Regions from separate parts of the Homo sapiens genome. Here all the other regions are reported to be linked to region 5. The links are microRNA targets in miRTarBase. Many come from high-throughput screens and were not tested one by one. Region 5 holds a microRNA gene; each other region holds the end of a gene's coding sequence. Distances are between the middles of the regions.

The links. Region 5 holds the annotated microRNA hsa-miR-1324 (CCAGACAGAAUUCUAUGCACUUUC, at 2,681-2,704, shown strand). A microRNA usually pairs through its seed, bases 2 to 8, with sites in the 3' UTR of a target mRNA and lowers its output. Matches are read on the target gene's strand: a 7mer-m8 pairs with bases 2 to 8, a 7mer-A1 pairs with bases 2 to 7 and ends in A, and an 8mer does both.
Region 1: the mRNA of CSDC2 is a reported target of hsa-miR-1324. Seed matches in the 3' UTR shown: 7mer-m8 at 3,332-3,338 and 7mer-m8 at 2,328-2,334.
Region 2: the mRNA of SLIT1 is a reported target of hsa-miR-1324. The part of its 3' UTR that is shown has no 7-base or 8-base seed match.
Region 3: the mRNA of KLHL38 is a reported target of hsa-miR-1324. Seed matches in the 3' UTR shown: 7mer-m8 at 1,141-1,147 and 7mer-m8 at 1,513-1,519.
Region 4: miRTarBase lists UHMK1 as a target of hsa-miR-1324. Seed matches in the 3' UTR shown: 8mer at 2,257-2,264.
Region 6: miRTarBase lists FAM3D as a target of hsa-miR-1324. Seed matches in the 3' UTR shown: 7mer-m8 at 1,435-1,441.
Region 7: the mRNA of HILPDA is a reported target of hsa-miR-1324. Seed matches in the 3' UTR shown: 7mer-m8 at 2,191-2,197.

Annotation. Positions count from the first base shown.
Region 1 is chr22:41,573,813-41,578,356 of GRCh38, reverse strand. It overlaps CSDC2 (cold shock domain containing C2), which reads right to left. Exons shown (of 4, transcript NM_014460.4): 4 at 1,691-3,624. The coding sequence ends at 3,462. It overlaps PMM1 (phosphomannomutase 1), which reads left to right. Exons shown (of 8, transcript NM_002676.3): 7 at 434-549; 8 at 917-1,457. The coding sequence ends at 1,039. Among named protein-coding and RNA genes, the nearest start is that of PMM1, 14 kb to the left of the region's middle.
Region 2 is chr10:96,998,512-97,001,511 of GRCh38, forward strand. SLIT1 (slit guidance ligand 1) reads right to left here. Exons shown (of 37, transcript NM_003061.3): 37 at 1-2,839. The coding sequence ends at 2,601. Among named protein-coding and RNA genes, the nearest start is that of SLIT1-AS1, 100 kb to the right of the region's middle.
Region 3 is chr8:123,642,084-123,646,627 of GRCh38, reverse strand. KLHL38 (kelch like family member 38) reads left to right here. Exons shown (of 4, transcript NM_001081675.3): 4 at 600-2,186. The coding sequence ends at 889. Among named protein-coding and RNA genes, the nearest start is that of KLHL38, 9.4 kb to the left of the region's middle.
Region 4 is chr1:162,521,078-162,525,621 of GRCh38, reverse strand. UHMK1 (U2AF homology motif kinase 1) reads right to left here. Exons shown (of 8, transcript NM_175866.5): 8 at 1-3,218. The coding sequence ends at 3,072. Among named protein-coding and RNA genes, the nearest start is that of UHMK1, 26 kb to the right of the region's middle.
Region 5 is chr3:75,628,143-75,632,686 of GRCh38, forward strand. MIR1324 (microRNA 1324) reads left to right here and starts at 2,621; the gene lies at 2,621-2,716. It also overlaps the pseudogene CLUHP10.
Region 6 is chr3:58,630,950-58,635,493 of GRCh38, reverse strand. It overlaps FAM3D (FAM3 metabolism regulating signaling molecule D), which reads left to right. Exons shown (of 10, transcript NM_138805.3): 10 at 1,126-1,548. The coding sequence ends at 1,215. It overlaps FAM3D-AS1 (FAM3D antisense RNA 1), which reads right to left. Exons shown (of 4, transcript NR_134853.1): 3 at 2,834-2,955; 4 at 1,054-1,438. Among named protein-coding and RNA genes, the nearest start is that of FAM3D-AS1, 26 kb to the right of the region's middle.
Region 7 is chr7:128,457,309-128,460,308 of GRCh38, reverse strand. HILPDA (hypoxia inducible lipid droplet associated) reads right to left here. Exons shown (of 2, transcript NM_013332.4): 2 at 1,891-3,000. The coding sequence ends at 2,849. It also overlaps the pseudogene EFCAB3P1. Among named protein-coding and RNA genes, the nearest start is that of HILPDA, 2.9 kb to the right of the region's middle. RefSeq lists an enhancer at 640-934.

The sequences.
Region 1 (4,544 bases), not on the chromosome of region 5:
TGACATGCCTCTGCCCAAAGTCCTCCCCAGGCTCTTCCTCCCTCTCCATGTGATGCCCAGGGCCTGCCCGTCCTCCCCCTACCTCTCCTGGCCTCCTCCGTTGCTGGGACGCTCGTTCTCTTCCCTGCCTCAGGGGCTGTACTTTGCGCCCCAGCCATCCCCACTCGGCTCAGGTCCCAGCTCATTGCCACCTCCTCAGAGGTCTCCCCTGATCACCCTGGCCGGATGAGCTTCCCCCACCCACTTCATGGTCTTGTTCATTCTCCAACCTGTGTCATAACTTCCTTGAGGATCCTAAGTCTGTCCCGTGTCCTATTCCTGGCCCTCAGTAGGCACTCAAGGGTTGTTGAATGAATGAATGAACAAGCAGCCCTTCTGTTAGCCTTGTCTGCCCCTCCCAGCAGGGAATAACAGTCCCCACCCCTGCCCACAGGAGGCATGATCAGCTTTGACGTCTTCCCCGAGGGCTGGGACAAGCGCTACTGCCTGGATAGCCTGGACCAGGACAGCTTCGACACCATCCACTTCTTTGGGAACGAGACTAGCCCTGTGAGTGTGGCCCACCCCAGGTTTCCCCTAACGCAGTGGACAGTGAGAAGCCAGGTCTGGTGGCTTCTCCAATGCAAATCACCTGAGGTCAAGGCCAGAACATGGGGCAACACAACAGACCTCTTAGGGGGCTCCTGGAGAACAACCATTGCTCACCAGCCCCGTTACACAGATTGGAAAGCTGGGGCCCCAAGAGGCTGGGCACTTGTTCTACATCACACAGCAAGTCAGGGCAGGTCTGACAAGGGGTGAGAAGGTGGGCTTCCTGGCAGTTCTGAAGGGGCAGGAGGAGGGGCAGGTCCGTAGCAGCCAATGTGGAGAGGGACTCCACCTAAATATCCCTCCTCTGCCCATCCTCTGTGTGCAGGGTGGGAACGACTTTGAGATCTTTGCCGACCCCCGGACTGTTGGCCACAGCGTGGTGTCTCCTCAGGACACGGTGCAGCGATGCCGGGAGATTTTCTTCCCAGAGACAGCTCATGAGGCGTGACCGGGGCCCACATCTGTGTGTCGTGACTTCTGAAGAGTTTGGCCTAGGCCTAAAGAGAGGTCCTGGTGTTGGATAGATGCCAGGGCCCCTCCTCTGGCCCAGGACGCCTGCTGCAAGCCCACCCAGATGGGGCCAGAGTCTGTGTGGACAACCGTCCCCAGCCAGTCTGCTCCTAGTGGCACTGGCTTCGTCCTCCCAGGGCCCAGAGTGTTCCCCATGCTCCACCTGGTGGCCCAGGCCACAGCTGCTGCTTGTATTTCGGTACAGAAGAGGTTTCTTTCTGCACCAGGAGGAGGCGTGCTCAAGTATCGGTACGAGATCTAGCCTGCCCTGCCTGCCTGCCCTGGGCGATGAGGTACGGTGGGGAAGGTGCCTATTTTAGAGAACTTTGTCACAGTATTAAAGTTCCCAGAACAAAGTAGGTGTCAGCTGTGTCTGAATGGATAATTGGCCCCAGTCACATGCTGTCACAGCCACTACTTTGCCGACAAGTAAACAGCACAGAGAGGGCAGGGACTTGGCCCAGGTCACAAAGGAAGTCTGATGCAGTCGAGGAGGGGGCCATTGAATCCCCAAAGAAGAGCTGGTTTGGTGTGTCCACCCCCAGCCCCTTCCTTGGGGACCCTGACACAGAGGCAGCTTCAGGCCACGGTGGGTCACAGTTGAGGGTTTATTGCCAGTGTTAGGAAGAATGGGGGGTCTGGGTGGCCAGGGGTCTTGGGAGGAATTCCAAATGAGCACTGCAGGGCCTGTGAGTGGGGAGGAGAGCTGCTGCCCCCCTGCCACCCAGGAGGCCCCAGGGCTGATGCCACCATATCCTGACTGCTAGTGGTGCCTTAAAAGGTGGCCTCCCCACAGGAGGGGAGCCTTGGGGGCCCCCAGGAGTCAGCCCTCACCAACAAGCCCTCTCTCAAGGGGGCCAGGGGCCTTTATTCCTCATGGGACAGGCTGGGCCGTGCCCATTTTAGGGGAGCTGACCACACCTCAGCAGCTCTGGGCTCCCAGATTTTATGTGGTGGGCCCTGGGGCCGGGGGTGGGATGCAGGCATCCCGGCTGATTTCTACCCTGCGGTCTTGGGGCACCTACAAGGCAAGGGATCCTCCTAGACAGTCACTGATCCCCTCATCCTGGGCATTTGAGCCCCCAGTTTTACTCACAGACTGAGTCTCATAAGGGTCCCACCCCTGGCCAGCCCTCCCTCGAACCACGGCCCCACTTCTCCCCGGTCAGGCGATGTGCTCTCTAGAAGGGAGGGTGGTAGGCAGGGGGTGCACCCAGAGGTGGAGGCAGACAGGGCCCTCCTTCCTGGCCTCCTGGGCCAGGCCACCCTCACCCCTGCCTGGGAGTGAATGGCCACGACCCCGGGTGCACACACATCTTGGCCCCAAAAGGACTCCAGGTGACAGCAACAGCCACACATCTTCAGGGATGGATGCAATAAGAGCCACACCTCGGCCACTGGTCTGTTAGGGCTTTGGGAAGAGAGTTTGACGTGGAGGCCGCAGGGCCAGTCTCCCAGGCTGGGGGCCCTCCTCGTGGGTGCCCCGGACGTGTGTCCGTCCCTCGCGGCATCCACAGCAGCCGTCAGCCGGGCATGGCCCAGAGCATCAGTGGGGCTTGTGAGTCAGGGTAAAGGAGGTCTGCAGCCAAGCTGGAGAGATGGACCCCCACCCTCTGCAAACCCCTGGGCTCGGCTCAGTACAGCCCAGGGGAAGGAGCCCAGCGCCACTGCCAGGCTGAGGAGGAGGGACTGGCCGGCGAAATGGGAGCCCCAAACCCCTTCCGCCCTCAGGCCCCTCTTCCTGCCTCTCCATGGCACTGAGAGAGCAGAGCAGGAAGGAAGGCTGGCCTCGGCAGTGAGAGGCCTGTGTGCCTCCGTGTCAGTCCTCCTCCCCTGCCAGAGGCTGAGAGGCTCCCCAAAAGCACCCATCGGCCAGGCTTCTGAGGGAAGGGTCCAGGCTGTGGCGGGGGACCTCAGCCAAGGGAGGGAGATGTAAGTAGCACAGAGAGCCTGGCTCCGGGCCAGGGACTGACACGGGACAGCTCAGGGGCGGAGGCCAGGGAGTGAGCCCAGCGCAGGCTCTCGCAGCTCAGTCACCGTGGGGACGGGTAAGCAGGAGGGCGAGCGGGTCCTGCGTGTCTGCGGCAGGGAGGGGAGGAGAGAGGCAGTGGACAGCGCGAAGCCAGGTCTGGTGGCCTTGCCCTCCACCTACCTCCTGGCCAGCTTGCACAGTAGTCACGGGTCGTGGGGTGGGTGGAGGCACACGCTCATAGCCACAAGCACAGACGGACAGACAGACGTGCACACTGAGGCCACCGAAGGACTCATCAGCCAGGGCAGTGGGGCATGGAGCCGGCTGCTGCCCGTTCACCCTGTGTGGCTCCCCAACCCCCGGCCAGCTGGCCTGTGAACCACTCAGCCTAGGAGCCCACGACCTGGCCAGACCACGTCTCGTGGGGAGTGTGGGGGGCCAGCTGAGTGAGCACCACCTCCACGGCCTGGAACTTCTGGTTCTTGGGAGGGATAGGGCACATCTTGTAGGTCACCTCGTCGCCCTCCACTGGCACGTACTCCCCCTCGATGCTGGCGGGCAGGAAGAGGGGTATTAGCCCAGCAGCAGGCCCTGTGCCCCAGACAATCCTGTGGCCTGGCCTTGGGGGCAGCCTGGCCCTAAGCCTCCCTAGGCCAGGAGGCCTGGCCAGGCCTTGCTTCTCAGAACCTCAGCTCTCGAATCTGTAAAACGGGACTCATGGCTGGGCACAGTGGCTCACGCCTGTAATCCCAGCACTTTGGGAGTCTGAGGCGGGCGGATCACCTGAGTCAGGAGTTTGACACCAACCTGGCCAACATGGCGAAACCCTGGCTCTACTAAAAGTACAAAAATTAGCCAGGCATGGTGGCTGGCACCTGTAATTCCAGCTACTTGGGAGGCTGAGGTGGGAGAATCGCTTGAACCCAGGAAGTGGAGGTTGCACTGAGCCGAGATTGTGCCATTGCACTCCAGCCTGGGCGACAGAGCGAGACTCCCTCTCAAAAAATAAATAAAATAAAATAAAATGGGACTCATAAACTGTACCTCCCTTTCTGGGTCCCTTGGGGACCGAGATGTGAAAGGGCACGGGGAGGTCCCTAAAGCTCTGAGAAGCTCAGTGACCTCCCCCGGTCCTCCTGGCATTAGAAGTGGGTGGGGCCAGGCCTAGACATGATATCCATCTCTACCTCCTGGCCCACCCACATGAAGGCCCTTTCCAGGCCAAGAGGCTCAGGAGCTGGCCTAGCCCTCTCAGACCTCCACGATGCTGTAACAGGATCCAGGGCCCAGCCGCTGGCTCCCAGGCTTCTGGGGTCTGCGTGCCCACTCCCTCCCTGGCCCCAGCCCTCCTCTCCCAACGCACCCTCAGCCCCTACTCAGAGGACAGAAAAGGCACCATGAATACAGACCTCAGCCAGTGAGAGGAGAGGCCTGGAGAGCCATTTTTGAGGCACCATTGGGGACACTAGGG
Region 2 (3,000 bases), not on the chromosome of region 5:
AAAGGGGGACAAGATGTGGAGAGAGGACTTCTCAGAGGGGTGATTTTGCAGTAGCCACCTTCCGGACTTTCAAGCGGAGTGTGAATAGGCAACGTGAGTGCTGACTCAGGTCCTTAGCAACTCGCTGGCTGATGGCCAAGTTGGAGAAAAAGTTGATCCTGGGGCACACAGCTCTCACATCATCTCATGGTGGATTCCAATCCTCAGACTGCACTGAGGTCAGCGCTGCTGTGCTAGGAGGCTGGGCCATGTGGTGGGGCCGGTCAGGGGAGCCTTAAGCTCACATGGTGCTCCCTAGGAACAAACATGCCAGCCGCTCACCTCCCAGCCCCATGGCGCCAGGTGAGGGGTGAGCATCACCTGTCTACAGGTGTCCTTTCCACCTCCTGCAGAATGAAGAGGCCTCCTGCCAGCCAGTGCCCTTCAAGCCTGGGAATTGGCTTCTCCAGGGTGGTGGGGAATGGTGGTGGCCAGGAAAGCTATCTTTCTCAGGGTTGGTGAGTCCCAGAGCACCTTTCTTCCAGGGAAGAGGCAAGCTAGCTGCCCTTGAGCTTTTCTGCCCTATCCAGCCCGGTGCAGATGCTCTGCAGGGTCCCACGGTGGCCTGGAAACTCAGAGAGGGATGCCATGTGGGCCTGGGAGAAGCCCCATGAGGCCCAGGCTGCAGTCTACTTGGGGGTGGGGGCGGGCATTGTGGCCTTGCTCAGAGCTCCAAGCAAGTAGATCCCAGCCCCCTGGTGAGGGGCAGATCCTGCCATGAGGACACCTGCCACATTGGGCAGGGCACTGCCCTCTTCCCATCACAGGGACCCCAGGACTCACAGTTGCTAGATTGAGTCCCCATGGCATGAGACATGCCAGGCACCTCTACCCCAGTTCTAGCCTTCTAATCAGCATCAAGGGCTCCCCTCACTGCCCTGGGCAGGGGACAGGGACACAATGCCACTCTGAGCCTCACCTGAACATACACCCAGCCATGCCTCCTGGTCACAGATGGAGGGAGCCAGGGCAGGGACATGCTCACCCCCGTTGCCCACCAGAACCCCCGGGGGTGTGCCCTCTTGGTGAGCCCTCTGGGGAAGGAGAGTGCAACTTTGCCTCCCTTTAGCCCATTCACAGTTTGGCCTCACAAACCATCTTTCTACATTTTCACTGTGTATGGAAGAGAAGACAACGTGGGCAGGCAATCGTATATTCAGGGCCTCTTCTTCTTCCACCACTGGCTCCTTCGTTGCCAGCAACTCCCTGGCCTGGGCCGCTGTCTGTGGCTGGAGCCCCCACTCAGCTCAACTCTTCCCGGGCATCCTGGTCATTCCTGCGATGCTCTGGGATGAGTTCACATCTGTCCATTAGGCCAGAACGTCCACAATCCCCAGCCCCGGGTTAGGCACATAAATACTTTTGATGTGATCAATGTAGATAGATAGATAGATAGATAGGTCTTCTAACTCCTCTGGCCTCCCAAGACCACAGTGGGGGAGTCTGCACTGTTCCTTTAGTCATCCCGCCCCCCACCTCTGGCCATTTTATAGCTGAAGAACCCAAGGCCCAGGTGGGGAGAAGTTTGCCCCGAGTGATAGAGCCAGCAGGGACTTCCCAATGCCTGGAGCACTGTCCCTTCCACTGCTCCCTACTGGCCTGCGGTGTGAAGGACTCTGAACCAGCTGCTCCCAGGTCAAGCACCCTGGCCCAGACCCTCACACCCAGTCCCTCTACCAATAGGTCACCGACAGCTTGTGGCTGACTGGTGGCTGGGGAAGCCCAGGACCAATACTCCTACTGTGGCCAGTGTCTGGAGGCAGATGATGTTTGTTTATCTAGAGCAAAGAACCCTCTGCCCTCTTTAGTGGGGTCTGCCACCCTGAGCAGCCCCTGTGACTGTTTCCTCCACATAAGCCCTCGCAGCTACAGTAGTCATGCTAGAACTTTAGGATTCAGAGGCCTGGTCCTAAGAACCACCTCCACCCACAGCCTCGTTCCCAAGCCGTGGCTGCAGAGCTGCCAGTCAGCCCAGGGGGCAAGGGTCCGACCCTCCCTGGCCAGCAGGAGGCGGCACCCCCGCTCCAGAGCCTGGCCTACCACCAGCAGATTCTGTAGCAGCAGAATGAACCAGGCTGGCTTCCCGGGGAGGCTGACAGTACTTCATGGTTGCCCGCAGAGGGGTAAGAGGCTTCTGGGGCCACAGACCCAGTTCCAAGCCAGCCTGGGCCACAGGCCAAAGGGAAGGGTTGGTTTGGAAGGCTGTCATTTTTCTTCTCCAGATTCAGATAGCAGGTAAGGAGGGGTGTCATCGTTCTGCACTTCTTGGCCTGACCTCACGCACACATTCACTCAACAAATATTTATTAAGCGCCTATTTGTGCAAGGCACTTCCGGAGAGGGCAGCCCGCAGCTCAGGCCTCGCCCACCCCCGCTGCCCCCAGCTATGGCGCAATTTGCTTTTAAAAGGCTGCTCTGGCACCACCCCACCCAGGAGGGCCCAGCTGCCCAGGAGCCGTCCTGTGATGACCTGCACCCCAGCCCAGCTGCTGGCGACTGTCTCCGCTGCTGCAGCGGCTGGGGCCCCTTGCCCGCCCTCACCGGCCTGTCCACGCCCAGCGCTATGCGCAGAGGGCACAGCCACACTTGGTGGGCTTTTCCACCTCCTCGGCAAAAGAGGTCCCATCGCTGCACTCAAAGGTGAACTTCCTCCGCTTCAGCCGAAGGCCCTGGCAGCAGCCCTGGCCTGGGCACGAGCCCCGGCACTCCACCCATGACAGGGGGCGCGTGGTCTGGCAGATGGCATAGCCCCTCTGGACCTGGTGAAAGTCCCGGACAGGGTCCCCCCGGCACTCGGACTCTGGATGGGACAGACACCAAGAGAAAGCCTCAGGGCACACCCATGGGTGAGCTGCTGCCTCCAGGGAGGCAGGAGGAAGAGGAGGAGGAGGGCAGCATCTGTGGGGTGGATCCTTTGGCTCTCAGACCCCACCTCTGTCCCCAGCATACTTCCGCCTCCCA
Region 3 (4,544 bases), not on the chromosome of region 5:
GGTAAATAAAACATGTTTGCTTCTGCTTATAATATTAGCTACTAATAGTTTGTTTCTCTGTAATCAAATCATAGTGTCATGGTTAAGAGGACTGGTATTGGGGTCAGATGGAACTGGGCTCAAATCCTGGCTCTGTCACTAACTGGCTATATACTTTTTAGCAAGTTAAACATCTTTCTGTGCCTCAGTTTGTCCATCCATAAAACGAGGATCCTAAAAGTAACTACCAGATAGGACTGGTGTGGGGAACCCACTTCTGAGTTTCCAAAGGATTGTCATAGTTCTTGAGTGGGCATTTGAGAGAGGAAGAGGCCAATGAGGCTGAGAAAGTTACAGGAATCAGGAGGCCGCTCCCAATCTAAGAATGGCTTATATGCTGCCTTAACTTGGGGTGAAGGTCAGAGTCAGGCAGATTTGCGTGCCAGCCCCCACTCTGCCACAAAGCAGGCCTTGGCAGGTTAGCTCAACATCCCACGTGCTAGTTCAGAGCCCCAGCCTCAGCCTTACGCAGTGGCAGGAGTCAGACGCGTCCCAGGACTGCTGACCTCCAGTCCCAGATGAGCAACACTGAGCTTGCCCATGTGTCATTTGGTTTTCAGGTTACACAAGGAGGATTCTTGCTTATGACCCTCAATCCAACAAATTTGTCAAATGTGCGGACATGAAAGACCGGAGGATGCACCATGGGGCCACAGTGATGGGAAACAAACTCTACGTGACGGGCGGGCGGCGGCTGACCACGGACTGCAACATTGAGGACTCCGCCTCCTTCGATTGCTACGACCCCGAGACGGACACCTGGACATCCCAGGGACAGCTGCCGCACAAGCTCTTTGACCATGCCTGCCTCACTCTCCAGTGCATACCCCGCACGTCTGGCCTCCCATGAGGTCGACAAGAAACCTTCTGCCCTAGTCAAAATGCCTTCTGTCGCCAGGGACACAAACCCAGCTCCAAAGGGCTTAACCCTTAAAGGCTGCAGGGAGAGCTCACAAGACTGAGGTACCAGAGTCGGGAGGCCTGGAACTAGGCATTGCATTGCCAGAACTCTCTCTCTCCTTCTCTGCCTCTCTCCTTATCTCTCTCCCCCACCTCCATCTGTCTCTGTCTTTCCCCCTTCTTTCTTTCTCTCCCCTATCTCTGTCTGTCTCTCTCTCTCTCTCTCTCTCTCTCTCTCTTTTTCTTTTTTTTGAGATGGAGTTTCACTCTGTAGCCCAGGCTGGAGTGCAGTGGTGCTATCTCAGCTCACTGAAACCCCCACCTCCCAGGTTCAAGCGATTCTCACGCCTCAGCCTCCTGAGTAGCTGGGATTATAGGCATGTGCCACCAAGTCCAGCTAATTTTTGCGTTTTAGTAAAGACAGGGTTTCACTATGTTGGCCAGGCTGGTCACGAACTCCTGGTCTCAAGTGATCCACCGGCCTCAGCCTCCCAAATGCTGAGATTACAGGCGTGAGCCACCACGCCTGGCCTGTCTCCTTTCTGTCTCAGTTTCTGTCTCTCTTCTCTCTCTCTGTCTGTCTCCCCCTCTCTGCTTCTCTCTCTTCTCTGTCTCTCTGCCTCTCTCTGCCCCTCTCTCTCTCTCTCTCTCTCAGTCTCCCCTCTGTCTTCCTCTCTCTCATCCCTAGGTTTTCCTCTCTCTCTAGCAATCTTCTTCATTTACCCACACAGTGTGTGGACAATGACAAATGATAAACCCAGACTCATTTTCCAGCTTTATATCTTCAGGAGAGAACTTTGCCATTATCCATATATTAAACCTAAAAAACAATGCTTATGGGCCTCTTTTGAATTCCATGTCTACCTCTTGAGCCAATCACTGTTGCCAGGACTGGCTAGTCCTGGACCACATCCCCACAGACAGAGGTGGGGTTACCTGTTGTCACTGACAGCCCATCCAAACTGCATATAATGGGTTAGAAGCATTTCCCCAAAGAGAGAAATCCAGACAAAAACCACATCTGCCCAGGACACCACTGAAATCTGGAACAAGAGGGCTGAGAGAACCCAGAGGATTCCTGGAACTGCTTGGTCCAGGTGGCAGCGTGAGAAATTGGCCCTGACCTTGTTTTTCTGCATTCTATGGATGTAGTACATTGAAATTCCAGAGATATATGCACAATTCAGTATCTAATGTTTGTAAAATTATCCTGCATTGCCAGAATAAAGTTTGTTTCTGGTGCCAAATGATGTTTTTCTGCAGCCTCTGGGGAGCTATAAACCTGCATAATTAATCAGGATGTTCATTTTGGTCAGTGTTATGAGGATTGCTCTTCTGGGGAAAGTCAACAAATTCCTTCAGTGCTTACAGCAGTCATTGCCCTCAGATGCCAGGGCTGACTATCTCTATAGCTCCCGTTATCTCAAGGTGCCTCCCACACTGGCTCAGTCCCAAACACAGGAATAAGCTGAAGTGGAGAACAGCAGTTCTCAGCGCTGCCTGCACAACACAGTCATCTGGGAAGATGTTTGAAAATGGGGCCAGCTCCATTGGAGAAAAATGAATAGGGATGCTTTGAGGCTGGGGGCAGAACACTGTATTTTTTGAAAAGCTTCCCAGATTTTTGAAATGTACAGTCAGGGTCGAGAACCACCGCTCTGGTCAGCTGTGAGCACGGAAGACCTGCATGGCTGGTTTCATTCCCCTCCTGTCATGGTCAGCCCGTCTGAGCCTAACAATGTAAGCTAAGTCCTCTCCCCACCAACGGAAGCATCTGCCATCAGTCTTGCTGCCCTGAGCCTGGCACCAGAGTTCACTCCAGCTGTAGCCTTCCTCCCCATCTGGCTCTCCAGGTTCATGTTCTAGACTTTTCCTTCTTTCTAAGTTGTCTTTTTTGTACTTCAGATTCTCCTCCTGGGGTCTGAAGCTCTGCTCTGCTCCCCAGATCTCTTGGCTGTGGTTCAGAGACCCTGCTTGGATTGCCAGCCCTGCTCCTCAGCCTGGACACTGTCCCCTTAGCTTCTGGCTGGCATCTTGTTCCAACCTAGTCTCTTTAAACCCCCTCTATTCAGGCTCTCAGTCCCACCTCTATTAATTCACAGGACAGTTGATTGTTTAAAAGGGCATAGAACACTTCCCCTCTCTTTTGCTCCCTCTCATGTGAAATGCTGGCTCTCTAATATGGTTTGGCTGTGTCCCTACCCAAATCTCATCTTGAATTGTAGCTCCCATAATATGAGAGGACCCTGGTGGGAGATAATTGAATCATGGGGGTGGTTTCCCCCATACTGTTCTCATGATAGTGAATACGTCTCACGAGAGCTGATGGTTTTATAAAGGGTTTCCCTTTTCATTTGGCTCTCATTCTCTCTTGTCTGCCACCATGTAAGACGTGGCTTTCACCTTCCACCCTGATTGTGAGGCCTCCCCAGCCACATGGAACTGTGAGTCCACTAAACGTTTTTTTCTTTATAAATTACCCAGTCTTAGGTATGTCTTTATCAGCAGCATGAAAACGGACTAATACACTCTCCTTCCCCCTCCACCATGAATGGAAGTAGCCCGAAGCCCTCACCAAAAGCAGATGCTGGTGCCATGTTTCTTGGACAGCCTGTATAACCATGAACCAAATAAACCTGTTTTCTTTATTAATTCCCCAGCCTCAGGTATTCCTTCATAGCAGCCGAAAATGGACTAACACATCCCCTCTTTCTTTTTCACACTTGCTGTGCCCTCCCCTTGAAAACATTTGCCCCACACATCATACCCACATGGTTCACTCCCTCAACGCCCCCAGGTCTCTGCTCAAAGATGCCTTCCTTCCCTGACCACCCACCCTTCACATAACCCATCAACAGGTCCTGTCTGCAACACCCCTGGGAAATAGATCACAAACACCTCCAGCTTCTCCATCTTCACTGGTGCTTCCCCAACTCAAGCCATCCTCATCTGATCAGCCTCCAAAATGTGCCCCCTGCTTCCACTGCTACCCCATGAGCCTTCCTTGAGCAACAGTCAGAGTGATCTTTTTTTTTTTTTTTTTTTGAGATGGAGTCTTGCTCTGTGGCCCAAGCTGGACTGCAGTGGTGCAGTCTCGGCTCATTGCAAGCTCCGCCTCCTGGGTTCATGCCATTCTCCTGCCTCAGCCTCCCAAGTAGCTGGTACTACAGGCGCCTGCCACCACGCCCGGCTAATTTTTTGTATTTTTAGTAGAGACGAGGTTTCACCGTGTTAGCCAGGATGGTCTCGATCTCCTGACCTCGTGATCCGCCCGCCTCGGCCTCCCAAAGTGCTGGGATTACAGGCGTGAGCCACCACGCCCCGCCAGAGTGATCTTTTTAAAACACAGACCTGATCATGTTACGCCCGTGCTTAAAATGATTCCATGGCTTCTCAGAGACCTTTGCATAAAGCCCCCAATCCTTTATGTAGCTTCTAGTTCATTCCCTAATCCAGCACCCACCTATCTCTCTGGCCTCATCTTTTGCCACCCTCACTCCTTGAAGTTGTCTCAGGCCCAGCCATCCTTCTTTACTTTACACCCTCCTCTCTTTCCTCAGGGCCTTGGCATGTGCAGTTGCCACTACCTGATACACACCTCTCTT
Region 4 (4,544 bases), not on the chromosome of region 5:
TAATGCTGTCTCTTACTGAGGTGTCCAACTCTACTTGTTTTTGTCCTGTAAATACAGCATTAGTTTTGACAGTGGCTAGCTAGCTACCCCCTCCAAATATATTTCAAAAGAATCAAGTATTTCCCACAAAATAATCACTGTATGTGCCTTTTCTGGGTGTACAATGTGCCACAGTAATACCCCAAAGAAGTAACTGGGAAGGTGAGAGGCAAGGAAGCACAGGTATTAATTTAGGGAATGAAACACTACCTGAGACAAAATTTGCCCAAAAGGGTAGGGGTTAAGTGACATGAACCCTCACCTCTTTACCCTTTCTCTCAAAAAGAAAATTTCTAGGTCTTTCAATAACTTCAATAAACCAAAATCCCTATGTATATATTTCATCCTAATCATGAAACTTGTATCTTTTGATATTTGGTTCAGGTTTAAGAAAGATAATATCACAGGAGGGAGGGGTAATCTGCTAATGTGATCTTTGGTAGAACGGGCTAAGAGCTATAAAATAATTTCAATCACAGGAGGCATTTCTTTTTCAATTCTCTGGCTTTAATATAAAACATCTAGCCAGGTGTGGTGGCAAGCGCCTGTAAACCCAGCTACTGGGGAGGCTGAGACAGGAGAATCGCTCAAACCTGCGAGGCAGAGGTTGCAGTGAGCCGAGATTGAGCCACTGCACTCCAGCCTGGGCAACAGAGCAAGACATCATCTCAAAACAACAACAACAACAACAAAAAATCTAATTAAATGCATGGTTAATTCAAGGCTCATCAATTATTCCCTCAGCTCCCTTAAAATCTAGTAACCATCTTCTGTAACAAAATTCTACAGTGTCAAGCACTAAATATATGTATGAATGTATCAGCAATAAGATGACAATCAAAGAATGCTGTGAAGATTGGCATCAAGATGTTAGCAGCATACTGCAGGACTAGGCTTAGAAGCCTACCTGCAGTTTATTTGTAAGGATTTTTCTTTTGGGGGCGGAGGGGAGAGAAAAGTAAATGTGCTAACTTAGGATACTTGCCCTTATAAAGAATTCCTTTGTATCCCATGTTCATCGTATTTAAGGACCTGATGTTTCTAATCACCACAAAATCTGCTACCCATATGAACATTTAGGAAAGTTTAGGTCTTCACAATACGGGTTCTGCCCACTTGAATTCTGACTTGAAAACAAACCAATTTATAATCAACTCCTGAAAGGGCCAAAATAAAAAATAATAGTTCTTCCTTCTAAGGGCATGTATTGGGGAACATGCCACAAGACCCTTTGGTAATTCATAAATCAGCCTCCTTATGCCAAATTTGGTTTCATAATAAACATTAAAGGAGAGTCCTGAATTTGACAATTATAAATAACTAAAATGTCAAACAATAATTGTTTGAATGGGGTAAAGTATTTCATTCTGTAAAATGCAAATTCTAACTGGACTCTCAGCAACCTGCATGGCAAACATAAGGAAATATGAGGAGGCTTCCAGCAGGGAAAGATAGAAGACTTTTTCCTTAGGAAAAAATAAATAAATAAAAAAATTAATAACCTGTATATAACTTGTCTTTTTTTTTTGGTATAATCAGTGCTTCATAAAGGCATCCTAATTTTTATATCTTTAAAGACAACCTACCATGAAATAAGAAGAATCCATAATTATAATTCTAAAAACCATGTAATCAACTTGTGTCCATGAACTCACGCATAGCAGCATCCTCTACTCAGGGACACATTATGTTGCTATGAATCCTTTTAAGAATTCTTTGAGTTTTTCTTCCTTTCTACTTCTACCTCATTATATCTACACCTTTCTTAACTACCTTGCAGTCAAAAGCCAAACTACCTGGGATGCTGCTCCTCTAGTTTGTCTTCAGCTAAGGATAGAGGCAAAGAATGAGGGAAGGGGAGGAAAAAGGGAGCAGGGATACGAGAAACAGAAAGGAAGAAAAAAGAATCCTTTTATTTTCCACCCTCTCTTCGCCCATTTTTTTTCTTTTCCCTTCACTGTACATCTAATTCTTTTGACCCACTTCAATTTTCATCATAGTAGGTAGAGCCACATCTTGAGAAACCTTAAAACTATAGATTTACTACAAAAAAGATGAGCTAATACAAAGTCTAAAGTAAACTAAAAGAGGGGTTGATTTACATCTGGCACAACTTAGTCTTTGTTCCAATCATTTTAGAAGTCTCAATTTAACTCCAGGCTAGACTCCAGTTTGTTCTGGGCCTCTCAGGAATTATGTTTTGTCATTTACATTGTATCAGACAGACTACCTCTCAAAAAATGTATATCTTAAATCTTACGGATGTGAAACAGGTAGGGAAGAAATAAGTATAGACTGTATTAGCTCACAGGATTCACACTATAAAGTACACTGACTCAAATTTTCTCTAATCATTCATACTCGCACATTCACTCAAGCATACATACTAGACATAAAAATTGTGCAAGATCAAGCATCAGCTTTCTATTTTAAAAGCCTTAATTTAAAAAAACTTAGATAGGCTCACTGCAGTTCCTTTAAAGGAATATTCAGTACTACAGTACTGCTTTAAGAAAAAATTCACAACTCAGTGTTAAGAACACAGTAGGTAACTGCTGCTTGACAATTACTTAACATTACTGAGAGCATCCAGTGCCAGCTTATGGATATCAACAATAAGGAAGAACCACTGGACAACATAAAGAAATAATCTGTAAATGATGTCACCAAACCTAACAAATTTGTTAGTATTTACCAAGACATGATATTATTCATCCTTGCTTCATGATCCATGAAATAATTAAGATTTTTTTAGGCTACATACTGAAGAGCAACACCTGCTCTCCCGCACAAAAAAGGGTTGCCCACATGGATGCTCTAAAACCCCTCAATGTATAGCTGAGAGGTCTTGTCCTACTCAGTGCCAAATGTATGCAACGCAGTCACTGCTTGGGCAATGGCTGCACATTAGTAGGATTAAATAAATGTATAAAGTACCTTCTTAAAATGGTAAGGGGGTAGTCCTGCATTCATATGTGGAATAACCCAAGAAATGGAAGAGGAGAAAAAGGAAACAGTCCTTAGGTTACTGATTAAAGCAAGGTTTGATACAGATATCCCCTCTTGTAGGCACTCAGCGGGTAGAATGTAGCCACAACAAACTTCCCATCAAACATCCTTCCAGTCAGTAATTTCTGCGCAGCTTTGGAATCACCAGCATTTGCATACTCAACAAAGACCTGAAAGAAGACAGAGAAAAAAACATTTCATTTCCACCAAGATTGTTTTAGACCAGTGCTTTACCACCTTTAATATATATACATCAACTGGAGATGTTATTAAAATGCAGATTTTGCTTCCTTAGGTCTGAGATGTCGCCTGAGTTTCTGTTCTAAACAAACTTCCAGGTGATGCCAATGCTGCTGGTCTATGAACTATACTTCAGGACAGCAAGGTTTAGAATACTTCCTCACAACTCAGCTCAACTTTGAAAAATCTCTCAAGGACAAGTTGTGTGAATCATGTACAATCTTTTGCTAAGGTCGTTACAGGAGTGATGAATAACACTAGACATCTGCCAAAGATACGGCTGAATAGCTCAGACAGCAACTGCATTTCAATGGTACCTGGATGATAATCTGTACTTTTAGCAGTGAAAAAGGAAAAAATATTGGTCAAAAGCTGCTGGAAATTGCACCTATTAGGAAGTACAATTTGGCTGGGTGCAGGGGCTCACTCCTGTAATCTGAGCACTTTGGGAGGCCAAGGCAGGTGGATCACGAGGTCGGGAATTCGAGATCAGCCTGACGAACACGGTGAAACCGTGTCTCTACTAAAAATACAAAAATTAGCTGGGCAAGGTGGCACACACCTGTAATCCCAGCTACCCAGGAGGCTGAGGCAGGAGAATCACTTGAACCCGGGAGGCGAAGGTTGCAGGGAGCTGAGATTGCGCCACTGTACTCCAGCCCGGGCAACAACAGAGCAAGACTCCATCTCAAAAACAAACAAACAAAATCTAACTGGGCGTGATAGCACATGCCTGTAATCCCAGCTACTTGGGAGGCAGAGTTGGGAGGATCACTTGAGCTCAGGAAGTCGAGGCTGCAATGAGCCAAGATCACGACACTGTATGTGCTCCAGCCTGGGTGACAGAGCAAGACCCTGTCCCCTCCCTGACCCCACCCCAAAAAGGAATAATGAATCTATTCCTGATTTTTTTTTTACCTGATTCTTAATTATGCCCAAACCTATAGAGCAAAGTTCGATAAATGAGTAGACATGCATTTATAGAAGGAATATCATGTTTTCTATCATACTCCTTGCTTCAGATAGGCTATACTTTTCTATACTACACCATCCCACACTAAGAAAGGCATCTTATTTTTATAAATTATGAAATTAATAGGGCTGTATCATTTTAATTCTGATTATTTTTATAATTGCATTATCAGATGCATTCATTATTTTTCAGTGTTTTTTGTAACATTCCTTATAAAATCATGTTTGCTTGAATTAAAAATTCAAATGAAGAATGGCTTCGACAACTAGGTAATGGACATTTT
Region 5 (4,544 bases):
GATTGCACCTTTGCACTCCAGTCTGGGTGAAAGAGCCAGACCCTGTCTCAAAAAAAATTTTTTTAAAGGAAAACTATAGCCATTGTGGGTTATCAGATTCTAGTCTTGTTTCTTGTTTCTTGACTATTTTTACCTCTTTGCGAACTGGATCCTGCCATCTGATGAATTTTGTCCCACAATGATACTTGGGGAACAAGAAGCCAAGTATTGTCTCTCCTACTAATGCATCTATTGTCAGTTAATTTTAAGGTCTCCAACCCTGGAACAAAGTTAGAAAAGGAAGGTTCTGCTCCCCAAAATGCATAACCAAATTGTGGTACATTCATGTAATGGAATACTATTTAGCCATACAAAGGAACAAGCTATCAACTCACACAAAGACATGAGTGAATCTTACATGCACATTGCTAAGTGGAAGAAGACAGTCTGAGGAGGATACACACAGTGTGACCTCATTTAATGAGACACTGGAGAAGGCAAACTACACAGATGGGAAGCCATTGGCTCCATGGGGTGGGGGTTTGAAGCATTCCATATGATACTTTAATAGTGGGATATCTGCCACAATGCATTTTTCAAAATATGCAGAATTTTACAGGCAAATGGTTAAAGCAAACTCTATTCAAATTAAATAAAATTACTCAGGATGTGGAGTATCCCAGGACAGAATACATCATGTGAAAAAGAATTTATGCTACAAATTACTATGGTTTGGATGTGGTTTGTCCCCGCAAAAGCTCATGTTGAAATTTAACCCCCACTGTGTCAGTGTGGGGTGGTGGGGCCTAGTGGACAGTGTTTGGGTCGTGGGGACGGATCCTTCATGAATAGATTAATGTCCTCCATGGGGGTGAGTGAGTTCTGTTCTCACAGGAATAGATAATTCCTGCAGGACTAGGTAATTAAAAAGAGTCTGGCTTCCTTGGCTTCCCTCTTGCTTTCACTTTTGCTATGTGATCTCTGGTGCACCCCTTGCTCCCCTTCCACTTTCCACCATGAGGTGAAAAAGACTGAGGCCCCACCAGATGCAACTGCCCAATCTCAGACATCCCAGCCACCAGTATTGTGAGCCAAATGAACCTTTTTTACTTATAAATTATGCAGCCTCAGGTATTCTGTTACAGAAGCACAAAATGGACTAAGACACAAATGTAGGTAAAAACTCACTGAAGGTGTAGGGAAAATGGTGTTGACCTAAGTAACTTTGAAAATGAATAGAATCTGTAGGCTGATGGCAAATGAACTATACTTCATCATTGGATTCCATTTTATAAAGTTCTTTCCAACAGAAGCAATTGTGAACAATTGTAAAACCACGGTGTCTGTATCTGGAATAAAACAATGACTTACATAAGTCACAGATGGTGGGAACCAGGTTTCTCACTGTTGAAGTGGGAGGTTACAAATTAGCAAGGCGAGAAGGCTAGAATGATTCATGTGATAGTAGATCAGAGGTGGAGACATCAATGTAAACTTATGTTTAGTTTAATATAGATACACACAGTTCTACATAGAAAACTTTATAATTAGGTGTGTATAGGTAGGTTAGACACACACATATACTTCCTAGCATTGCCAATGAGGGACAAGATACAATGTGCTCATTCAGCAGCCAGATGCAAGTTTTCCTACCATTCTGAAAGGAATCAGGCTCTTTGAAGAAATGTCTGATACTAGAACTGGGACAGTAAATATAGGAGCCAGGATAATATAGGTCCAGGGGGGGCCATCGTGTCTCCAGAACCAGAACTGGAAGGTCCAACTTCCAGGGGGAGAAAGGAAGAGTGTCCTTAGTGAAGTGGAGGGCCTCACAGCAAGATGCCTGGCTTAATCAAACTTGGACATACCTGAAGCACGTTCAGTGACTAAAAGTGCCTACCATGAGCAGCTGGAACCCACTCCCTGAGAGCTTCAAGAAGCATGGGTACCTCTTGTACCTGTTTGTAATTACAGCCAAGGACCAGCAGGCAGCATTACTGCATCCACATGGGGCTTTTACTGGAACCAGTAAGTCTCTGCCAGCCCCTCACAGGCTCCTGGGATGCCACTCGTTCTGGGTCTGTGGACAGACAACCAGGACACTTGCTCAGTGCCCACCCACTCCTTGTGGCCCACAGCCCATCACTCAACCCCAGCCCCACCATCCCCTGCTTCCTAAGCCGTTCCTCATGCCAGAAGAAAAGGCAATGCCTTTGTCCCACAGCCTCTGCCTTGTGTCATGTCATGTGGGGGTATGGAATGAACCGGCCAGCCTAAACTCCAGTGCTTCTGCCTGAAGAATCTGTCCCCACTGTCTGAGTCGCCCTCTAGGGAGCTGTCAGTGGGGGAGAGAGCAGCCCTGGAAGAGAGGCCCACCTGCTTCTGTCTGACTTCAGGGCAGCCTCTCAGGGCAAGAACCCAGAGCAGATGGAGGCCTCACAGAAGCCTGTGGCAGGGCTCTGGGCTTGGTGGCTGAACATCTCCCTCTCTGCTGCCAGCCATGGGGCCCAGAACCACCCATTCAAGAGGGTCACCACCACATTGCAGGTGTGCAGCTGGACGGCTCCCCAGGCAGAGCCTGCCATGGACTCCATGCACACAGAGGATGCACACCTTGAGGCTGGACTATGAGGAGAACATTCCTGAAGAGGTGCATGAAGCCTGGTCCTGCCCTCACTGGGAACCCCCTTCCCTCTGGGTACCAGACAGAATTCTATGCACTTTCCTGGAGGCTCCATGCTGGTCTGTTCATTTGGAAGTTTGAGGCTGTCCATGAGGAAGTAACAAAAGAGATATCTCAGAGCAGGTTGTGGGGCACAGGCTGAGCCCTTGCCTAGTCCCTCCCTAGTCCCTTTGCAGAGCCAGGGCTGGAACAAGGACCTGTGGATAATGAGGGAACTGCTCTGCAATAACCGGCCTGAGCAGCTGCTTCAAGAAACAGCCACAATCAAGGCACCTATAGCCCCTGGTGAGTGACTGGCAGCCTCAGGCCCACCTGCCATCTGTGAGCAGGTTTTCTTGCTAACAGGATGAAAGCAAAGAAAGCTGGAATAAGCCCAGCCCTCTCAGGCACCTTGAAGTCTGTTGGGGTTCCTTGCAAAGCCTTCTAGCCTTCTGCTTCTTGGCAGCCCACCCAAGCACCTTTTTCTAGCCTCTAAGACTTTGATGCTCTGGAAGGAGAGGGCCCTACTTTCCACTAGGCTATGGGGCCAGGCCCATCCAGCTCCCTATTTCTACTAACAACCACAGGGCTCTCACCTGGGCACACACTGCCCAACCATAGCCCTTCTAAGGCAGAAGATCATTTGTCTTGCAGTTTCAGCTTGCTAGGGCTTAAAAGTTATCAGTGCTGTTATTAAGATAGAGAAGTGAGATCATCAGCACAGGTGACAGCACAGGCCGGGCTGCTGGGGAGGCTGAGGGAGAGTGTCCAGCCTATTCTGCCAGCTGGGCCTTCCCAGGGGTGTCTCGTGACCCAGTCCCTTAGAGAAGCATGAAGACATCTCAGCAAGGAGCTGGAAGGTGCAGATCAGGGCAGCCCAGCACCACTGATGGTAGAGGGGGGCTACCTCCAATCAAGCTGTGTCTCCACAGCTGACCCGTGGAGCCAGGAGGTGATTTACAACTTCTGCAAGGCAGTCAGCTCCGTCAGCTGTATGCCCTTCAACATTCACTTCAACTCAAACATCCCACCAGAAAGCAGTGGGGACTGGCGAATGCAGCAGCCCTGCAAAGTGGAACAGAGCATCCTGGGGTGGGGGATCTGGGGTCTGCCTGCTCATCTGAGCACTGCTCCCTGGGGGTGTGCTCTGCAGGCTCCCTGAAGGAGGGCTGGGAGCTCATCAGGGAGACCCTGAGCCTGTGGAACATGCCTGAGGCCATGTCCATGGGGATTTGTGCCTACTTGCACCTCCTTGCTCATCTCACTATGCTATTGGTGACTGTGCTGAGGTGGGTTTCGAGCATCCCCTGGGCTGTGTCAGCACAGGGCTCTGGGCCTGGCCTGGCATTGAGGGATGGCAAATAAGGGGCCTGGGTTTGCATTGTCACCTCCTATGATTCCAGAAAATAAGGAAGTCCAGACCTGCAGTACTGGAACCCTATCAAAGGGGTTAGGAGGCCGCTCACTTTCCCTCAGGGCCGCATGTGGAGGAGCTGAGGGAGGTTAAGGAGACCCTGGGGACTCACTTGTTCTGTCTGGGCTTCCCCCAGCTCCACCCTTTGATAACCATTTTCTGGGAAGAGCTCAGGAACCTCTTGTGCTCTAGTGAGGTGGGGCCTTCCCTCACAGGGTATTGGTGAGGAGGCATTCTGAGACTCTGTGAGTGAGAAGCTAACACAGTGCCTGAGAATACTCATGGGAGCTGTCATCCTCTGTGACCATCACGTGACCTCGTAGTGTTCAGACTGCCTGGCCTGGCCTTGGGCTTGGTAAGGCTGTTTTGGGGTCAGCTGCTTTAGACTCCCACTTTCTCTGCATTCAAACAGTGACTGTTTTAGTGTTTGCTTATGGGTTTAAAAAATCCTAATATTTCATTTATAGTAGTTTCAGCTTGTATGTGTGT
Region 6 (4,544 bases), 17 Mb from region 5:
GGCGTGGGAGTACAGGAAGCCCAGCATCATCTTCATCCATCTGCAACCAGCTGGCCGGGACCGACACACAAAAATGAACCAAGCACCCTAATGGGACTAAGCCGGTCTGTTCTTAGTCCTCACACTTGGGAAACTGGGTTTTAGGCAGGTAGCATCTAGAATCTCTTTTTTAATTCCTGAGAGTCAGCCACAATGATTCCAACAGCAGATTTTGCCATTTACGTTTTTTTCTTTCATAATCCAAACCTGAGCATTTTAGACACAATCCTAAGTGATTTTATTCTTCTTACATACTTATTACTAGTATATATATATTTTAGAGATAGGGTCTCGCTCTGTCACCTAGGCTGGAGTGCAGTGGCACAATCTCGGCTCACTGCAGCCTCGACCTCCTGGGCTCAAGCGATCCTCCCGCCTCTGCCTCCTGAGTAGCTGGGACCACAGGCATGTGCCACCACATCCAGCTAATTTTTTTATGTTTTCTAGAGACAGGGTCTCCCATGTTGCCCAGGCTGGTCTTGAACTCCTGGCCTCAAGTGACCCTCCTTCCTTACCCTCCCAAAGTGCTGGGATGATAGGTGTGAGCCACTGCACCCCACCCCTTATTATTAGTATTAATTAATATTATGTGGTGGTTCTGCCACTTACCAGCCAGTGACTACGGGCAGTGACCCTCTGTGCCTCAGCTTCCCCATCTGTAGAATGGGATGTAAACAGTGCACACTCCCTAGGGCCACTGTGCAGATTAAATACATAAGGCCCTGCAGAACACCACGTGGCATACAGCAAGCGCTCAAGACATGGTCGGAGTCTTCTTTTTATTGTTGCTATCATTATTGTTATTTGAGGTATCCTAGAGGGACACAGAGAATTTGTGGGGAGGGGCCAGATCTCTCCAACAACTGGTTACCCTTCAGGGCGTGAGAGCAGTTAACTGGGCTCTGATCCCATCTCTGAGATCTTGAGCAAGTTGCATCCCCTCTCTGAGCCTCAGTTTCCCCATCTGTGAAGTGGGTTAATAACATCCCACACCCCCATTTAGGTTTAGAGCACAGTGTCCATGTGGGCATGAGTTCTGAACAGCCTCACTCACTGCCTATATTTCTCTGTCTTCTCTCTCTCTAGTTCTTAAAGAACAGCCCAGACACAAACAAATACGAGGGATGGCCAGAGCTGCTGGAGATGGAGGGCTGCATGCCCCCGAAGCCATTTTAGGGTGGCTGTGGCTCTTCCTCAGCCAGGGGCCTGAAGAAGCTCCTGCCTGACTTAGGAGTCAGAGCCCGGCAGGGGCTGAGGAGGAGGAGCAGGGGGTGCTGCGTGGAAGGTGCTGCAGGTCCTTGCACGCTGTGTCGCGCCTCTCCTCCTCGGAAACAGAACCCTCCCACAGCACATCCTACCCGGAAGACCAGCCTCAGAGGGTCCTTCTGGAACCAGCTGTCTGTGGAGAGAATGGGGTGCTTTCGTCAGGGACTGCTGACGGCTGGTCCTGAGGAAGGACAAACTGCCCAGACTTGAGCCCAATTAAATTTTATTTTTGCTGGTTTTGAATGAGCTTTCTGACCACTCCAGTGGCCACGTTTCTCCCTGGGATTGAACTGCTCCAGACTCAGCATGGGCCATGGGTTCAGACAGGTCTGTGACAGCTTCAGGCTCCCCCTTAGGCAGCTGGGAGGGAGCTGTGTTTCTAGGATTTCCCATGGGCCTGAGAGAATCCTCAGTTCCTGCATAACATGTGGGATGGACAGGAACAGAGGGAGCTAGGGACAGGATGCAAGAAATACTGTCATCACCCTCTGTCTGAAGGAGAGCTGGAGCAAGTCCAGAGCAGGAGTGGGAGAGGAGGGGCACATCTGAACCTGGCTGGAAGGAGCCGCCAGGCTGTGCTGCAGGCTTCAGGGAAGGCAGCCGGGCTGTCTCCGCCCCAGGAGCGGACCCTGAGACAAGGACTCAAGGGCAGCCAGTATATTTGGGAGGTGATTGTGGGAAACACCAATAGAGAAGTAGGGAAGTGAGATGGCAAAGGGAAGGAGGGGAAGGCAGCCAGTGAAGGGTATGGTTTCAACCCAGCTACCCCTGTGGGGACTGGAGCTGACTCCCACCCGAAGCTCTAGGAATCGGGGTAGAACATGCACCTTGGAGATACTCCACCCGGGAGTGAGGGAGCTGGGGTATTTACACACCGACTCCCACTAGTGGTTTGTTGAGGGCTTCTGGTGTTGGGGATGATATGAATTCCTAGGTGCTTCTTGTCTGCCCTGCCTAGGGAAGAGTGGCCCTCTGTGGCTTCACAGCAAGCCCCCAGCCAAGAGATGGCAATGCCAGCTGCAATGGCAGGAGCACATTGAAATGGGAAGGCCCAAGGATACGGTGTCAAGACCTGCCTGAGGTTTCTGAGAAGGGCCCAGTTCCCAGGCTCTAGACTAAGTCTTGAAAGGAGGTCGTGGGGGCAGAAAGCATTGCTACTCAGCCTCCTGGAGCATGTGCTGGGGACACTACACCTCATGGAGAAGAAACCCTCTGCCCAAGCACAGATGCCCACCAGTGGTCTGAGACTCACAGCTCCCAAGTCCTGGGGCCAGGGAGCACTTCAAATGTGCCAAGATAGCCTGGGGTAGAGACAATAGTGTGTGTGAACCTTCCACCAGGGGCCACGGCAGGTGGGACACGGGCTACAATTGCAGTGATATCAAAATCAAGGTCCAGGCCAGGTGCGGTGGCTCACGCCTATAACCCCAGCACTTTGGGAGGCCGAGGTGGGCGGATCAACTGAGGCAAGGAGTTTAAGACCAGCCTGGCCGACATATAAAAGTTAGCCAGGTATGGTGGCACTGACCTGTAATCCCAGCTACTTGGGAGGCTGAGGCAGGAGAATCGCTTGAACCTGGGAGGCGGGGATTGCAGTGAGCCGAGATTGCACCACTGCACTCCAGCCTGGGTGACAGAGCGAGACTCCATCTAAAAAAAAAAAAAAAAAATTCAAAGAGCCGGCGGGGAGCCGTGCTCAGGGTTGGCTGAGGAAGTCAGAAGGTGCCCATCCAGACATCCTGTCAATTCTGTCACTCCCTGCCCAACCCACCCCAGCTCACCCTCACGGATGAAAGCGGGAGCATGCTGGCAGGCCTGAATAACCACTTCCAACCACATCAGTAGACTACCTGGAAAAACATCTGCCCAGAAACCTGCTCTGGGAATGAAGGTGGCATGAAATTTTCATGATGACCATAAACACCTTTGAGAGCTCGGAAATTTCACTTTACAACAAGCAGGAGTACCTTGTAAAATTTTTAAAGAACATATAAAGACCTCTAAAATGAGCTCATGAGCAGGGACCAGGGCTAGGCAGAGGGCTCTTGGCAGTGGCCACTATTTTAAGACATGGGGTAGCTGCCTCATTGAAGAGAAGACACATGGACTTTTCCAGAAACTGCACTGCACAACACTTCAAAGAAGACTGAGAACATGTCAACTGGCTCAATCAGAGAATTCAGGGAAGCGTCCCAGGTGCCCTTTCCCAGATTTTGTTACTAATGGTCAGTCTGAACTCTTCTTTGGAGAATTGCCCTTGGGCTACTCATACATTCTTTGAGCACAAGTGCAAAGAAGACAGACCAGGAAGCTGGGGGTGTGTACACCACCCCAGGATGGTCCTTAGCTAATGACTGGCAGGTATGGGAACGTGAAAGGCCAGCTCTTTATTTTGGGGCATGATGACGACCACGAGGTGCAATTTACACTCCAGGATTCCCAGAGGGATCAGGCGGGAACTGGGACTTTGCCTGAAAGTGTCCCTTTGCTTACCTCTTTCCCCTTTCCCATCCTGCTCCTCCACTCCCTTACCAGTGTCCCCAGGGGCCAGTCCTTAACAAATCACCTACACGACAATCCCTATCCCGAAGTGGGATCCTGGGGTACCCATCCTAAGAGAGGTGGTGGGCATGGCCAGCTGGATGGGACTGAGCCTGAGCCTGGGCTGGGAGATAAGACCTCCAGGTCTGCAGGAATTGTTGTCATAAAAGGGATCAGTTCTCAAGGAGAAAGAGCTCAGAGTGGGGGAGCTGCACTTGCCACTGCCATGTGGAGCCCATGGAAGAGGCAACGTGCTGTTCCACACCAGGGAACACAAGGCAAAGATTAGGGATCATGCCCCACTCCAGCTTCCCACTCCTTCCTCAGATGCCCAGAATAAGTCAGAAGATAAGCCCAAGTAGCCATCATTGTACCCCCATAACCCATCAAGGAGACTGCATTCTCGAGCCAGCCACACTAGGCCCCTCTTGGGTGGGTGTTACAAAAGTGGCAAACACCTGTCAGACTCTCAACGTCATTTTCAGGACATTGTGGCCACTATAGGGACCCCCAGGTCAGCTCAAGCTGTAAAGAGTTGGGTCTTTATCGCCAAGATTTTCATCACTCAGCAAACCTGATATGCATCAAGAGTCCGGCAGGCTTGGGGATGCTGCAGTGAAGAAAACCCAGCACCGTTCCCACTCAGTCTAGCAGGGGATACAAATCCAGAGGCGACATGGCTTGGCAAGGGGAAAGAC
Region 7 (3,000 bases), not on the chromosome of region 5:
CGGCCTCCCAAAGTGCTGGGATTACAGGCGTGAGGCACTGCACCTGGCCTGAACTTGCAGTTTTCTAAATGAGCTGTGCATAGGCTCATCTCCATGCCTTTGCTCCCGTTGTTCCCTCCGCTGAGACACCTTTTCCTAAGTTGGCCAGCAGCCTACAACCTACGCATTTTTAAAAAATTGAGATCCTCTAAGAAGCTTTTCCTGAACACCCCTCTCCTGCCTACAAATAACTTTATATACCCACTATCCTGTATACGTATTTCTATCACAAAACCATGACACATTATTTGTTCACATGCCTTCCTCCCAATACCTTGTGTACATCTGAGGCAGGTAGCGATGAGGTATTAGCTGATGCCTGGCATCCAATAGGTGCTGTACACAATGTACCAATCAGGATAAGCTAAGTTACACTTCAGTTAACAAAACCCCCAGATATCAGTAGCACAATTCCTGTGCTACAGTGCGGGTATCAGTCACCTTCCCAAAACAGGCCCAGTCCTTTTGCAGGGGGTGGGGGGTAATGGGAAATATAAGAACATACCCTAGAGAAAGCAACATGTCTAGAAGTCTCTCCCACATCACAGTCAGATTGGACAGATTAAGGGCCCTGCGCCATGCATCCTCATTCCAGGACCTACACTAATGAACAGTTCCATAGGAAGCACTGCTGGTCACTGCACAGAGGGAAAAAGAGGTCCTCGCAGGTTTCTCCAGCACTGAAATGCTCTCACGTAGAATTAACGCAAGCCACTACCACTCACAGCTCATTGGCCAGAACTAATGACATGGCTCCATCCAACCACAAGGGGGTGGTGGCACACAGATCACTTCAATTAAACTAAGCCACTTGGAGGAGAGACTTAAGGTGCAGGCTCTCCAATTGAAGGTTCAAAAATACCCCAAATTAGAAGCATGAGAATGAGAAAATATATCAAATATAAGAAATATGACTAGAAGAGGGTAACTACTGGCACATGAAACTGAAACCAGAGAAAAAGCCAAATAGACTTTTGAGAGTAGTACTATGCTAACAAAGTAACAGTCATATAAACCCTGCCAGCCACAAGGGGACCAATTTACCATGTACCCGAAAGGTGGGAAACTGGAAATACTTGATAAATAACACTAGTGACAACCACTGTGCAATAAATGAAAGTGATGCTTAACCCACAGGCTTCTAGGGTAGTGACATTTTAAGAACACTCAGGAAGCAAAACTGGCTTAACAGAAGACACTGTACTTCATTGTTGCGCTTTAGCAAAAGTCAGTCAAGTTAATAAAATGATGCACACGCCCAGATGGGAGTGTAAATAAATATATTCTGAAGGGCAAAGGAGTGAATACAATTGTACGTGGGACAGGAAGTACAAGAGTGATGGATACAAGAAAAAAAAACCCCTCCAACTTTTGAGTAAAGGCCAAGTTGCTTAGATCTGGGAGAGCAGATATAATCATCTGTGTGGTGTGGACACTTTACCAACTGACTTTGAGAACAATCTGAATTAAGCAGCCTTTTTGGTGGGTAAGTAAAACACGCTGAAGAGTACAAAAGAAAAAGCCCACAGCCTCCTGGACTGATAGTCCTCTTTGCCCCAGAGACTCAAGGAGAGGGGCTGGAAGTGGTGATCATTTTTCTTCTTCTTTACAGATCTAGTCATGACAGGCCTGCAATAATCGTGGCCTAGGCTCACATAACTGGTTGATACATGGCAGACCCAACTGCCTCTGCCCCCAAATTCAGAAGTCTACTGATACTATGTTTTAAACAAAGTGATTTAAGCACTTTCCTGCTCCAAAGTATTGAGATGTTAAAATTAAACCTCAGGTCTAGAAATTAAGACCCTCCCTACCACGAATTTCAAGAGCAGAAGTCAACATGACACACAGTAGAAATATATATTCCACTTTATTAGTTAGAAAAAATCATTTAAGCCACATGGTGGCCACAATGTCCATAACTTGAGCAGGCTTTGGCATCCCACCACCCCCTTCAGACCAATACACACTATGTTGGAGGAACGACTTTAAAATGTAAAATGAGAAATGGGCACTGAACACTCCATCCTCACTCCCAACAGCCCACCCACACAACCTCTTCAACTGCTATCCAAACATGGAGGAGCTCTTGTGGAAGAGAGGCTCAACACCAAATAATTGAGCATAAGACATTCAAGACTAAAGGAACCCCAGACAGATGTTTAGGAAGTAGGGTTGAAAATATCACCATCTCCCAACAGCTGAAGTTGGGACATCTAAGAGATGTCAGAGCCATACTGCTGAGGAAAGCACAGCATACACCAGACCCCGGGGTAAGGGCGAGATCAACCTATCTCATAGCCATAAGCAATCCACTCACACCTGTGCATTAAACAGGCTTTTTCTTTTCTTTTTTTTTTGAGATGGAGTCTTGCACTGTGGCCCAGGCTGGGTACAGCAGTGCGATCTCGGCTCACTGCAACCTCCGTCCCCGGGTTCAAGCAATTCTCCCGCCTCAGCCTCCCAAGGAGCTGGGATTACAGGCCTCTGCCACCACACCCAGCTAACTTTTGTATTTTTAGTAGAGATGGGGTTTCGCCATGTTGGCGAGGCTGGTCTCGAACTCCTGACCTCAGGTGATCCACCCACCTCAGCCTCCCAAAGTGCTAGGATTACAGGCATGAGCCACCGCAACCGGCCTAAACAGGCCTTGCCCAGGCAATGAGCATCCAGTTAGACAGGTTCTTCAAGGCCTAGTAATAGTTCTCTGGTTACAACGGTGCTCAGCTTGTCTGCTAGGAATGGGACTCCCATCTGGACATGTCTAGGTCAGTGTTCCAAAATATGGCCAGTATGGAAGGAGGTCTTATCACATGCTTCTGGATGGATGGTCTGGAAGGCCCTTGGTGGGCTCTGTGTTGGCTAGTTGGCTTCTGGTGGTCCAGGAGGTCCCAGGCGATGGGCTCTCTAGTAAGCCCTCTAGGGACTCCATCACTCTAACGAAGATGGAGAGTAGGGTCA